Linked DNA regions of Homo sapiens: region 2 is linked to region 1. The links come from fine-mapping of genetic effects on plasma protein levels. A gene starts in region 1. The other region holds a variant in brackets. All regions are shown on one strand. Distances are from middle to middle.

Region 1 (5,362 bases):
CTTGGCCTTCCAAAGTGCTGGGATTACAGGCGTGAGCCACTGCGCCCAGCCTTGTCTATGCTTTTGAGTTTTATTCACATCTATTGCACCGTTATGGTGGGAGTAGTATAATAAGTACTATTGTGCTAGGCCGGGCGCTGTGGCTTGCACCTGTAGTCCCAAGACCAAGGCAAGAGGAGTTCAACCATCTCTACGAAAAAAACAAAAAAAATTAGCTGAAGTGTGGTGGTGCAGGAAGCATCGCTTGAGCCCAAGAGGTCGAGGCTGCAGTTAGCTGTGATTGCGCCACCGCACTCCAGCCTAGGCAACAGAGCAAGACCCTGTCTCAAAAATAAAATAACAGTGTGCTAGTGTGCATGGTTTCCCAATGAGTGAGGTCGTGTCACAGGCAGCCACAAATGTACGCGGCTGGGAATATTACGGGATCGCCTCCCTCACCCCAGCTGCATCTGGGGTGTGGGACTCAGGCAGGGCCGGGATCACTGGCTGTTCACAACACCATCCCCCCTCTTCCGACCTAGTAACCAGACACCCCGATGAGTTTGGGCAGGGCGGCCCTTCGTTTTCCTGCTCCCTCCCTCTCAGATACTTTCAGAACACTGGGGAGGCCGAGGGAATCCTAAATACGACCCTCCGCTTGCCCAGGGTCTTGTGAAGGAGAAACGCGGCATGGTGGCCCTCGCGTGTGTGTGCAGCGCCTGCAGGTGTCCCGCCCAGCGCCTCCTGCACAACAGTTGCAGGCTGGACCCGAGGGTCTCCTCTCCTGGGGCCCCACAGTGCCCAGAGGTCCCGCTAGCCCCAGACACCGCCCCAGGCTCCCCTCCCTTTCTGACGCCGTCCACTCCCTTCCTCTGCGGAAGGGGGACACGCTCCTCTGTGCCGAGGTGCCAGGCCGCTGAGATCTGCTGCCCTGGAGGAAAAGCCAGGCAGGGTCCCTGGCCTTGGGCGGCTAGGAAGGCTCCACGGCTGCTGGGGATAGAGACGCGGGGCCAGGCTAAGGGTTCCCGCCCCGTCTAAACAGCCTGCCCTGGGCAGGGCAGGGCTCCTCTCCCGCGCCCGCGCGCTCTCGGCTGGGCACGGTCCGGCTCCAGGCCTGACGGGCGCGGCCTCCCCACTGGACGCGTGCGGGAGGGCGGCGAGGCCAAAGCGCTGGGGCCAGGAGGGCACCCGCCTAGCGGCTCCCTACGGGAGTTGGGGCAGAAGACGCCGCGACCCCGCGCGGGTAATTTCTCCCGAGGCGCGTTCCAGCCCGTGGCGCTGCCGGCGCAGACCCCGCGTGGGGACCGGCGAGGCTAACCCCTCCTGCGGCCCGGGGTCGGCAGAGCACGCAAGGGGCCGCGGGCCGCGTGGGTTTGGGCGCGCCGTGGTGGGCAAGCGGGGCCAGCGGAGCGGGAACCCGCACACCCTCCGAGCGGAGCCGAGGACAGGCCCGTGCGGGCCGCGGGGTCCCTCTGGCGCCAGGAAGCGGCGGCCGAAGGAGACAACGAGAACGCAGCCCCGGCTCAGGGAGGCTTAAAAGCTGAGATGCTGAACGCAGACGGCGGGCGCTCGGGGGCTGGGGGGCGGGTAGAGGCCGCCATTTCTCAAAAAGGTCTCCATCGAGCCGGCCTCTGCTCCCGCCCGAGGGGCGGACGCCCGATCCCGGCACCCGGGACTGCCCGTGGGTCCCTGCTGGCTGGGGACCCCCAGCCCCCGGCTGCGCGCAGGGAAAGGCTGCAGAACGCAGAGACCAGAGAAGCCGGGGGCGGCGGGGAGGGGTCGGGGGGCCACGGCTGTAGCCCGGCCCCGCAGTCTCGGAGCCTCAGTTTCCTTCTCTGTACCACGGGAGCGTGGACGGAGGGATTTCCGAGGCTTTGACCGCTCTGATAGCCCCGGGGCGGGGCGGGGCGGGGCGGCTGCGCCAGCCCTGGTCCTGAGCCCCCAGCCCGGCGCCGGAACCCGGACCGCGATCTCGGGAGCCGAGCCCCGCGGTCCAGATGAAGGCGCGAGTGCGCGGGTGCCGGGTGGGGTGTCTGAGCGAGAGCGGAGCTTCTCAGGTGGACGCCCCCAGCCACCTCCGGGACCCTTCCTGCTGGCCTTTGGGCCTGAGAAGTGGGCGCGGCTGGACAGACGGGAAACAGCCCCCCACGCACAGGTGGACACCCGGGGATACCGGGCGCGCGCGGCGCCTGGCAAGGGGAAGCTGCTGGAGACGCGGGCGGCTGCTCCCGCGGGGCCCCCTTCCGAAGCGCCGCTGCGAACGTCCAGCCCCGGCGACGCCGCCTGCCCGCGATCGGGCCGGCGCCGCGGACAGGAAAGGCTCGATCAGCTAGGTCTGCCTCCGAGAAGTCCCCAGCGCCCCGCCCGCACGGGGTGGGGACTGACAGTCCCCCGGGGACGGGGCCGGGTCCACAGAGCCCGGGAGCTGGGGGAGGGGAGGCGCCGGGGGCCCCGACCCGTGGGAAGTCCCTGTACCCAGGCTGCCCGGCGGCTTCTCAATAGCACACGGACATCTAAGAAACGCGGGGCGGCCCGGTGACCCCCGCTCTGGACTTAGTGGCGCCGCGAGGCCCCACTCCGAGCCGTTGACCACCGGGCACTCGGGTGTTGACGACCTGGGTCCTTGGGCACCCAGCCCGGCTCCAAACGACCCCGGCCCAAGGGTGTTCAGTGCAGCCAGGAGGGCCGAACCGAATTCTATCTCCCGGACGCGGTGGTTTCCCGCCCGCCTGGAGCCCCGTCGGAGGTTCGGGGACACCACGCAGGTGGTCCATCCTCGAGTCCGGGGCCGGAGCCCGACTTCCTTCCCCCTGAGCTCTCGGAGCCTTCGGGGCAGCAGCGCCGGCCCAGGCGGGGGCGGGGGAGGAGGGGGCCGCGGCAGCTCCCAGAAGGGCGGGGGGGACGCGAGCGGAGGCAGCCCCGGTGGCGCGCTCGTGAGACCCCCGCCGCGCCGCGGGCCCGGGCCGCGGACAATTAAAGCGGGATTCCTCCCCCGCTGACGTCGGCGGCTCGAGGCCCCTCCCGCGGCGGCATAAAAGGCGCGGGCTCCGCAGCGCAGGCGGCAGTGGGGGCCTGATAGCGCGGCGGTGTGGACCGCGCGGCCGAAGAGCGCGGCGCCCAGAGCGCGGGCCGCTCGCGGAGCCACAGCCCGAGCCGGGTCCCAGCCGGAGCCGAGCCCCAGCCGAGCCGAGCCGGGCCCGGAGCGCCCGGTGCCCGCAGCCATGCCGGCCGGCCGCGCCGCGCGCACCTGTGCGCTGCTCGCCCTCTGCCTCCTGGGCGCCGGGGCCCAGGATTTCGGGCCGACGCGCTTCATCTGCACCTCGGTGCCCGTGGACGCCGACATGTGCGCCGCGTCCGTGGCCGCCGGCGGCGCCGAGGAGCTCCGGAGCAGCGTGCTGCAGCTCCGCGAGACGGTGCTGCAGCAGAAGGAGACCATCCTGAGCCAGAAGGAGACCATCCGCGAGCTGACCGCCAAGCTGGGCCGCTGCGAGAGCCAGAGCACGCTGGACCCCGGAGCCGGCGAGGCCCGGGCGGGCGGCGGCCGCAAGCAGCCCGGCTCGGGCAAGAACACCATGGGCGACCTGTCCCGGACACCGGCCGCCGAGACGCTCAGCCAACTCGGGCAAACTTTGCAATCGCTCAAAACCCGCCTGGAGAACCTCGAGGTCCGCGCGCGCCCTCGGCTCCGGTTCCCCCTCCGGCTCGCTCGCCCCTCTGCCCTCCCCCACCCCGTTCCCTACCCGGCCAGGCATCCCCCGCCCTCGCCTCAGCCGCGCGGGTGCCCGGCCGGTGCCTCCCCGCGCCTGCGAGGCCCCGCGGCGGCCACTCGCCCCAGCTCCCTGCCAGGCCGCCCCCGCAGTCGCCCAGAGGGGACCGCGCCGCGGGCCTTCCAGCACGGTCCCCGCGCCTCGCCTAACGGTGTGGTTTCCCCCGCCCTTGCACCCCGCAGCAGTACAGCCGCCTCAATTCCTCCAGCCAGACCAACAGCCTCAAGGATCTGCTGCAGAGCAAGATCGATGAGCTGGAGAGGCAGGTGCTGTCCCGGGTGAACACCCTGGAGGAGGGCAAGGGGGGCCCCAGGAACGACACCGAGGAGAGGGTCAAGATCGAGACCGCCCTGACCTCCCTGCACCAGCGGATCAGCGAGCTCGAGAAAGGTACTGGGGCCAGGGGGAGCCGTGCTGCCTGCCTGCACCTGCTTGCCCGACCCTGCCTCGGTCCCGATCCCTAACAGCCCAGCTCTGCACTGTGCAAGCCTCAAGCCGCTCCGCTACCCCCAACCCCTGCACCGCTTTCTCATTCCCCGCACCCCTTCCCAGGTTCTGGGCTTCTAGTCGGTGTTTCTATCAGGGCTGGGTGCCTTGGGCTGGGGCTGTCTCTGGGAAAGGGGATTGCATAGTGCCCCCTCCCCCATCCAGACACACTCACACACTCGCTGGATTTTTCAAGTCTGATTTGTTTAATCCTCAGTAACTTTGCACAGTGGCTGTCGCTGGCTCAAACCCTCCCTGCTTAAGAAAGCCTGTCTCTCCCTGGTCCCCAGCCTCAGCGTACAGCTGGGTGCAGGCTGGGGCTGGGCGCTCTCGTTCCCCGGGCCGCTGAGGCTGTTAAGCAGGTTTCTTCCCGGCTGCCATGCCCCCGGTGTCCTCTCAGGATCTCCAGCTCCTCCCCACTTCTGTCCTGAACCCCTACCCTGAGGTTTTCTTTTCTGAGTGACCCAAGTCCTGGCATCTTTCAAATCCCTGAGGTTTCTCAGTCACCAACTCAGGCCAGCCAGTCTATCACCCAGGGCGCCTGGATGAGCGCTGGAGGCTCTGTCTTGAAGTCGCAGAAATCAAACAAGGTTGTAAAAGGGGAGGGGGGGGGGTGCCCGGTGCGGAGCAAGGCCACGTGACCCTGCTCAGACCGCAAAATGTGCCGGACAGATTTAAACAGTGCCATCTTAAGGCTTGTTATGTAACTGAAAAACAGATCAGAAGGAAGGACCTCAGGAGGGAGGGAGAGGGAAGGAGCGGAGATTGGGGAATGAAAAACACCCGGAGAAAGGCCAGGGGCTGGGCCCCTCCCTATCCCCCACTGCAGGCCTCAATGGGTTGGGGTAGCCGCTGGGGTGCTGCACTGAGGGGGCCTGCCCTGCTCTGCTCCCTGCCAGTTGGTTTAGAGGAGGGGGTGGTTGCTGACCGGGCAGGATGTCTTCTAGAAATAATTTTTGGCCTGGGGAACTGGTTTCTTTCTGGGCTTCCTGGCAGGACCACGGCTGCTCACCCAGGGATTGACCAAGGGGTGTGTGTTCCTGGGCTCTGGGCCTGCTACTGTGCCCATTGCTGGCCAGGAATGTTTTGCCTGGAGTCAGTCACACCATACCCAGGGTGCCACAGTATAT
Region 2 (5,362 bases), 80 kb before region 1:
TTCAGATAGCTGGGGTCTGTGCATTTCACCATATGTAACGTTTACCTCAGAAAACAAGGAAGTCAACCTCTTGCAGCATTTGCTTTCCCAAGTGGCCAGCGTTAGCCATTCCGAGGCTCCCTTCTGTGCATTCCAGCTTTGAGCCCATGATTAAATGAGGACAATGGAGCTGGTTTCCCATGGCTGGGTAGGGAGTGGTAGCAGGCAAAGTGGGAAGGGCTGAACATATCATGGTGAGGAGCTGGACTGGAGCTCTCTCTACACATCCATGGTTCCAGCATACACAGAGAAACAGAGGTAAACAAGACAGAGCGCCATCCTCTCTCTCCTGCTCAGAGGGCCAACCAACGGGAGACGCATGCCACACCAAGGGCAAAGCACACAGCCCAGCTCTAAATGCACACGTTCGTGGCTTCTCAATGCCATTCGCCACTAACAGGAACCAGGCTCCTTGGAGAAAAGGCTAATTCCAGGACTGGGGCAGGGAGGGCACAGAGTGAGCTTGGGCCCTCTGGTTGTGCTGGAAAGTCAGGACGTGCTCCCAAACAGGTATGGCAAAAGGGCAGCATCAGTCAGGAGGCGACCACTCAGCAAGAAACGGCTTGAAGGTAATGGATCAAATGAGCATGACAGTACTGGGACAAAGCACCGTCGTGTGCTCCTGATGGGATTCACTGACAAAGGTGCATCATTACCCAAAATGCCCCATCTCAGTGTGAATATGAGGAAAGACTAGGCAGCTCAAATTCAGGACATTCTACTACATGCAAGGCCAAAACATTCAGAGACAGAAAGCAGAAGAGCGGTTACCAAGGGCTGGGGAAGGGGAATGGGGAGTTGGTGTTTAATGGAGACAGTTTCAGTCTGGGAAGATGGAAAGCTGCTGGAGATGGCTGCTGGTGGTGGATGCTGGTGGTGGCTGCACAAGCATGTGGGTGTGCTTGCTGCCACTAAACTGTGTGCTGAAAGATGGTTGAGATGGTAAATTCACAGTTAAAAAAATCAAGGTCAAGAAAGTCTAAAACAGACTGAGAGACTTCTTTAGATTAAGGTAGGCTACACAGACACGACCACCAAATGCAACGTGTGATCCTGGGTGACGGGCGGGGCATAATGAGGGCATTGCTGGGCAGGCAGCAACACCTGACCTTCTGAACTACAGAGGGCCGGGAGCACATATCCATGATACAGGTCCTGACTCTCACAACTGCACTGTGCTTACGTAAGAAAATGGCCTCCTCTAAGGAGACAGACACGGTGTTTAGGAGTAGAAGGGGGACAGCATCTCCAGCTCAGTCTGAATATGTAAATGGAGGGTGACAGTAAACAAGGCGAGATGTAAACAATCTGCAAACCTGGGCAAAGGCTATAGGGAAGCTCATGATACTATTCTTACAGGTTTTCCGTCAGTTTGAAATTACATCAACATTTTAAAATACAAAAAGTACTAGTCAAGAACAATAAACGCACCTGAAAAATATACCGACAGCTGGGTAAAATTCAAACTTGTTCTCGGCGACTGTCTCCTCTTCAGCTGTTTCCTGTTCGGCCTCTGAAGGCATGACAATTCTCTGCAGTCACACCCACCAATATGTGACAAGTTTAAGGGTTTCAGGGGTTTTTTTGAGACAGGGTCTAGCTCTGTCACCCAGTCTGGAGGGCAGTGACACCATCATAGCTCACTGCAGCCTTGACCTCCCTGACTCAAACCATCCCCTTGACTCAGCCATCCGAGTAGCTGGGACCACAGGCACATGCCACCATGCCCGGCTAATTTTTTGTATTTTTTGTAGAGACAGAGTTTCACCACATTGCCCAGTCTGGTCTCAAACTCCTGAGCTCAAATGATCCACCTGCCTCAGCCTCCCAAAGTGCTGGGATGACAGGCATCAGCCACTGTGCCCAGCCTAGAACACAGTTAAAGCATTGATTTGCAATGCCAAATATTTACTGGAATGGCATTTTCCATATATTTATGTATTTATTTATTATTATTTTTTGAGACGGAGTCTCGCTCTGTCGCCCAGGCTGGAGTGCAGTGGCAC[G/A]ATCTCGGCTCACTGCAACCTCTGCCTCCTGGGTTCAAGTGATTCTCCTGCCTCAGCCTCCCGAGTAGCTGGGATTACAGGCATCTGCCACCATGCCCGGCTGATTTTTGGATTTTTAGTAGAAAACAGGGTTTCACCATGTTGGCCAGGCTGGTCTCAAACTCCTGACCTCAAGTGATCTGCCCTCCTTAGCCTCCCAAAGTGCTAGGATTACAGGCGTGAGCCACTGTGCCTGGCCATTTTCCATATATTTAGACTTAGAAAAAGGTATCAAACTTCAGCTCTCCTGAAACAAGTATTGTAGATGACCAAAATACCTCCTTATTTTTGTATTTATTGATTTATTGAGTTATTGATTTATTTTGAGACAAAGTCTCGTTCTGTCACCCAGGCTGGAATGCAGTGGCATGATCTTGGCTCACTGAAACCTCCACCTCCCGGGTTCAAGCGATTCTCATACCTCAGCCTCCCAAGTAGCTGGGATAACAGGCATCCACGACCACGCCTAATTTTTAAATTTTTGGTAGAGATGGGTGTTTCACCATGTTGACCAGGCTGGTCTTGAACTCCTTTCCTCAAGTGATCCTCCCACCTTAGCCTTCAAAATTCCTTTTTAAAGTCATTTGAATAAGAGGAGGATAGAGTCAGAAACTGGAGGACACCTCCTATGTGTAATCCACATGCTATCTTGTTAAAACTCTAGCTCTAGAACTCCACAGGGTGATAATGAGGACATGTTCTTATCCATCTCAAGAGTCTTCCACAGCTCTTCAGAATGGAACAATGAGACAGAGTTTCACTCTGTCACCCAGGCTGAAGTGCAGTGGCAAGATCTTGGCTCACTGCAACCTCCACCTCCTGAGTTCAAGCGATTCTCCTGCCTCAGCCTCCCAAGTAGCTGAGATTACAGGCACCCGCCACCATGCCCGGCTCATTTTTCGTTATTTTTAGTAGAGACGGGGTTTCGCCATGTTGGGCAGGCTGGTCTCGAACTCCTGACCTCAGGTGACCCACCCGCCTCGACCTCCCAAAGTGCTGGGATTACAGGCGTGAGCCACCGTGCCTGGCCAGCATGTTTTAAGTTTTTTTTTTTTTTTAATCTGGGTAGATGGTCTCTTTGTGACTCCTGAAACTCACATGAGACTCACTAATGAAAAGTATATCCATTTCAAGAGCAAATAAAAAGAGCGGAACTGTACCAGCCAGCCAGTCCACACTACACCCACAAACTCCACCCACTGGAACCCATCCACTTCACATTCTATTTCTACCTTCTTCAAATCAGTAGGATCCATGCTCTATCGTCCATTCCTACTGCAGCCGCCTCTTTTGTGGCTCCCAAGGTTTCTTTTCTTGCTGTTTTTATTGAAGCAGGGTGTCACTCTATTACTCAGGCTGGAGTGCACCAGCACAATCATAGCTTACTACTGCAGCCTCAACCTCCCAGGCTCAAGCTATCCTCCCACCTCAGCCTCCTAATTTGCTGGGACCACAGGTGCGCACCACCATGTCCGGCTTATTTTTTACTTTTTGTAGAGACAGGGCCTCACTTTGTTGCTTAGGTTGGTCTCAAATTCCTGGGCTCAGCATGTAGTTGGTGATGGGGAGCTGCCCAGGAGCCCAGCTAGGGAATTGTTGTGTATAAATTTGTGTTTAGAAAGATCTTATTGTCTGTGGATGGAGTAGAGGGATTGGAGAGGTGAGACAGAATTCTGGAGAAATAGGAGGCCCTGACGGTGGCTGTGTGGCCACATGTAAGGCCACTGCCCTTACAATCACACAAGCGCTGATGTGAGTGTCTCATGTGAGTCTCGGGAACCACAAAGTATCTACCTAGATTTAAGAAAAAAAAAACAAAAAACTTTTTAGATCCTCCCAGCTCAGCCTCCCGAAGTGCTGGAATTACAAATGTGAGCCACCACGCCCAGCCCCCAGGGCTTCTCACCTGGATTAGCACAACTCCTCTCCACTTGGTGCCCCCACCTCCAGTCTCGCCCCTCTCCAATCACCCCACTCCATCCATAGCCAATAAGGTATTTCAAAACACAAATTTATGCACAACAACTCCCCAGCTGGAATCCTGGGACAGCTCCCCATCACCAACTACATGAAGTCACTGGCTGCTGGGAGTTTAATGCTGGTCAATGTGGATGATTTCTTTCATAAATGCAGTTCAATGCAAATGATTTACTTATTTAATATTAAATCAAGATGCTCCCCGTAATAATGTCATTCTCACCTGTAATTACTATGATTGATACCTATACTTGCGTATTGTAATTTGGTGCTACCGTGTCTGTCAGTCTGTCTAGGCAGCAGCGCCCTGGAGAGACAGGACACTTCCCGTGAGCTGTCCACCTTGGCTGAACCTCTGGCCACCTCCTCCTTGCCAGACAGAGTGGACATTCCTCCAGACAGACTGGGTGTTCCTCCACTCCCAGCACAAGAGCTACTGGGTGGGCGGTGGTGCATCTCCCTCCGGACACACACTAGAAATCTGGAGCAATAGAAGGACCTGATGGAGGGCTAGGTGGCCACATGTAAGGCCACTGCCCTCACAATCACACAGGCTCTTCACAAACATCCTCCCAGCTCCAAGTCCAGAGACCTCAACAGTTCTTTAGGCAGAGCGAATGGAAAGAGGGCAACAGATTAGGGCCTTTATGTTTCTTATCTAATGTCACTTCAAGGCCCTGCCTGACATTTCTGACCAGCCACCTGATATCCTCAAGCCCTTCTTCCTAAGGATGAGGCCCACTTTCTTCTAACTACACTAATAACTCTCAAACATCTGGCAGCAGGGCCCCTTTACGGTCTTAAAGGTTCCTGAAGACCCTCAAAGAGCTTTTTTATGAGTTTCATTTATCAACATTTTCCGTATTGAAGGTTAAAACAGAAAAACATAATTGATATATTTATGAATTCACTTAAAAATCAAACTTATTATATATTCAAATAAATAACATTTCTACAAATAACTATATTTTCAAAAATTGTCAGTTATCTTGTCACTTGTCTCAGGTGGCTTTTTTTAGATTTTTGCAAATCTCTTTAATATCCAGCTTCATAGAAGACAACTGGATTCTCATTTTTTTTGTTGTTGTTGTTGTTTGTTTTGTTTTGTTTTGTTTTGTTTTGAGACAGAGTCTCACTCTGTCACCCAGGCTGGAGTGCAGTGGCGCAATCTCAGCTCACTGCAAGCTCTGCCTCCCGGGTTCACGCCATTCTCCTGCCTCAGCCTCCCAAGTAGCTGGGACTACAGGCGCCCGTCACCTCGCCCGGCTAATTTTTGGTATTTTTTAGTAGAGATGGGGTTT

Direction of the effects. Alleles are on the strand shown, and positions count from the first base shown. The strength of an association depends on the size of the effect and on how common the allele is.
With allele G in place of A in region 2, the plasma level of the protein whose gene starts at base 3,040 in region 1 is lower (moderate association).

The links. PIP is the chance, under the fine-mapping model, that this variant and not a neighbour inherited with it causes the effect. The UK Biobank Pharma Proteomics Project read protein levels with antibody pairs (Olink). The fine-mapping took linkage between variants from a reference panel, not from the people measured, so its PIPs are less certain.
Region 2: its variant is fine-mapped to the plasma level of the NPTX1 protein (UK Biobank, PIP above 0.99).

The regions. Positions count from the first base shown.
Region 1 is chr17:80,474,285-80,479,646 of GRCh38, reverse strand. NPTX1 (neuronal pentraxin 1) reads left to right here and starts at 3,040. Exons shown (of 5, transcript NM_002522.4): 1 at 3,040-3,644; 2 at 3,929-4,136. The coding sequence starts at 3,201. RefSeq lists an enhancer at 4,053-4,586.
Region 2 is chr17:80,554,564-80,559,925 of GRCh38, reverse strand. The region is part of intron 1 of RPTOR (regulatory associated protein of MTOR complex 1); the gene reads right to left. Among named protein-coding and RNA genes, the nearest start is that of RPTOR, 12 kb to the right of the region's middle. RefSeq lists a silencer at 2,650-2,850. The variant G/A (reference allele first, on the strand shown) is at 2,046.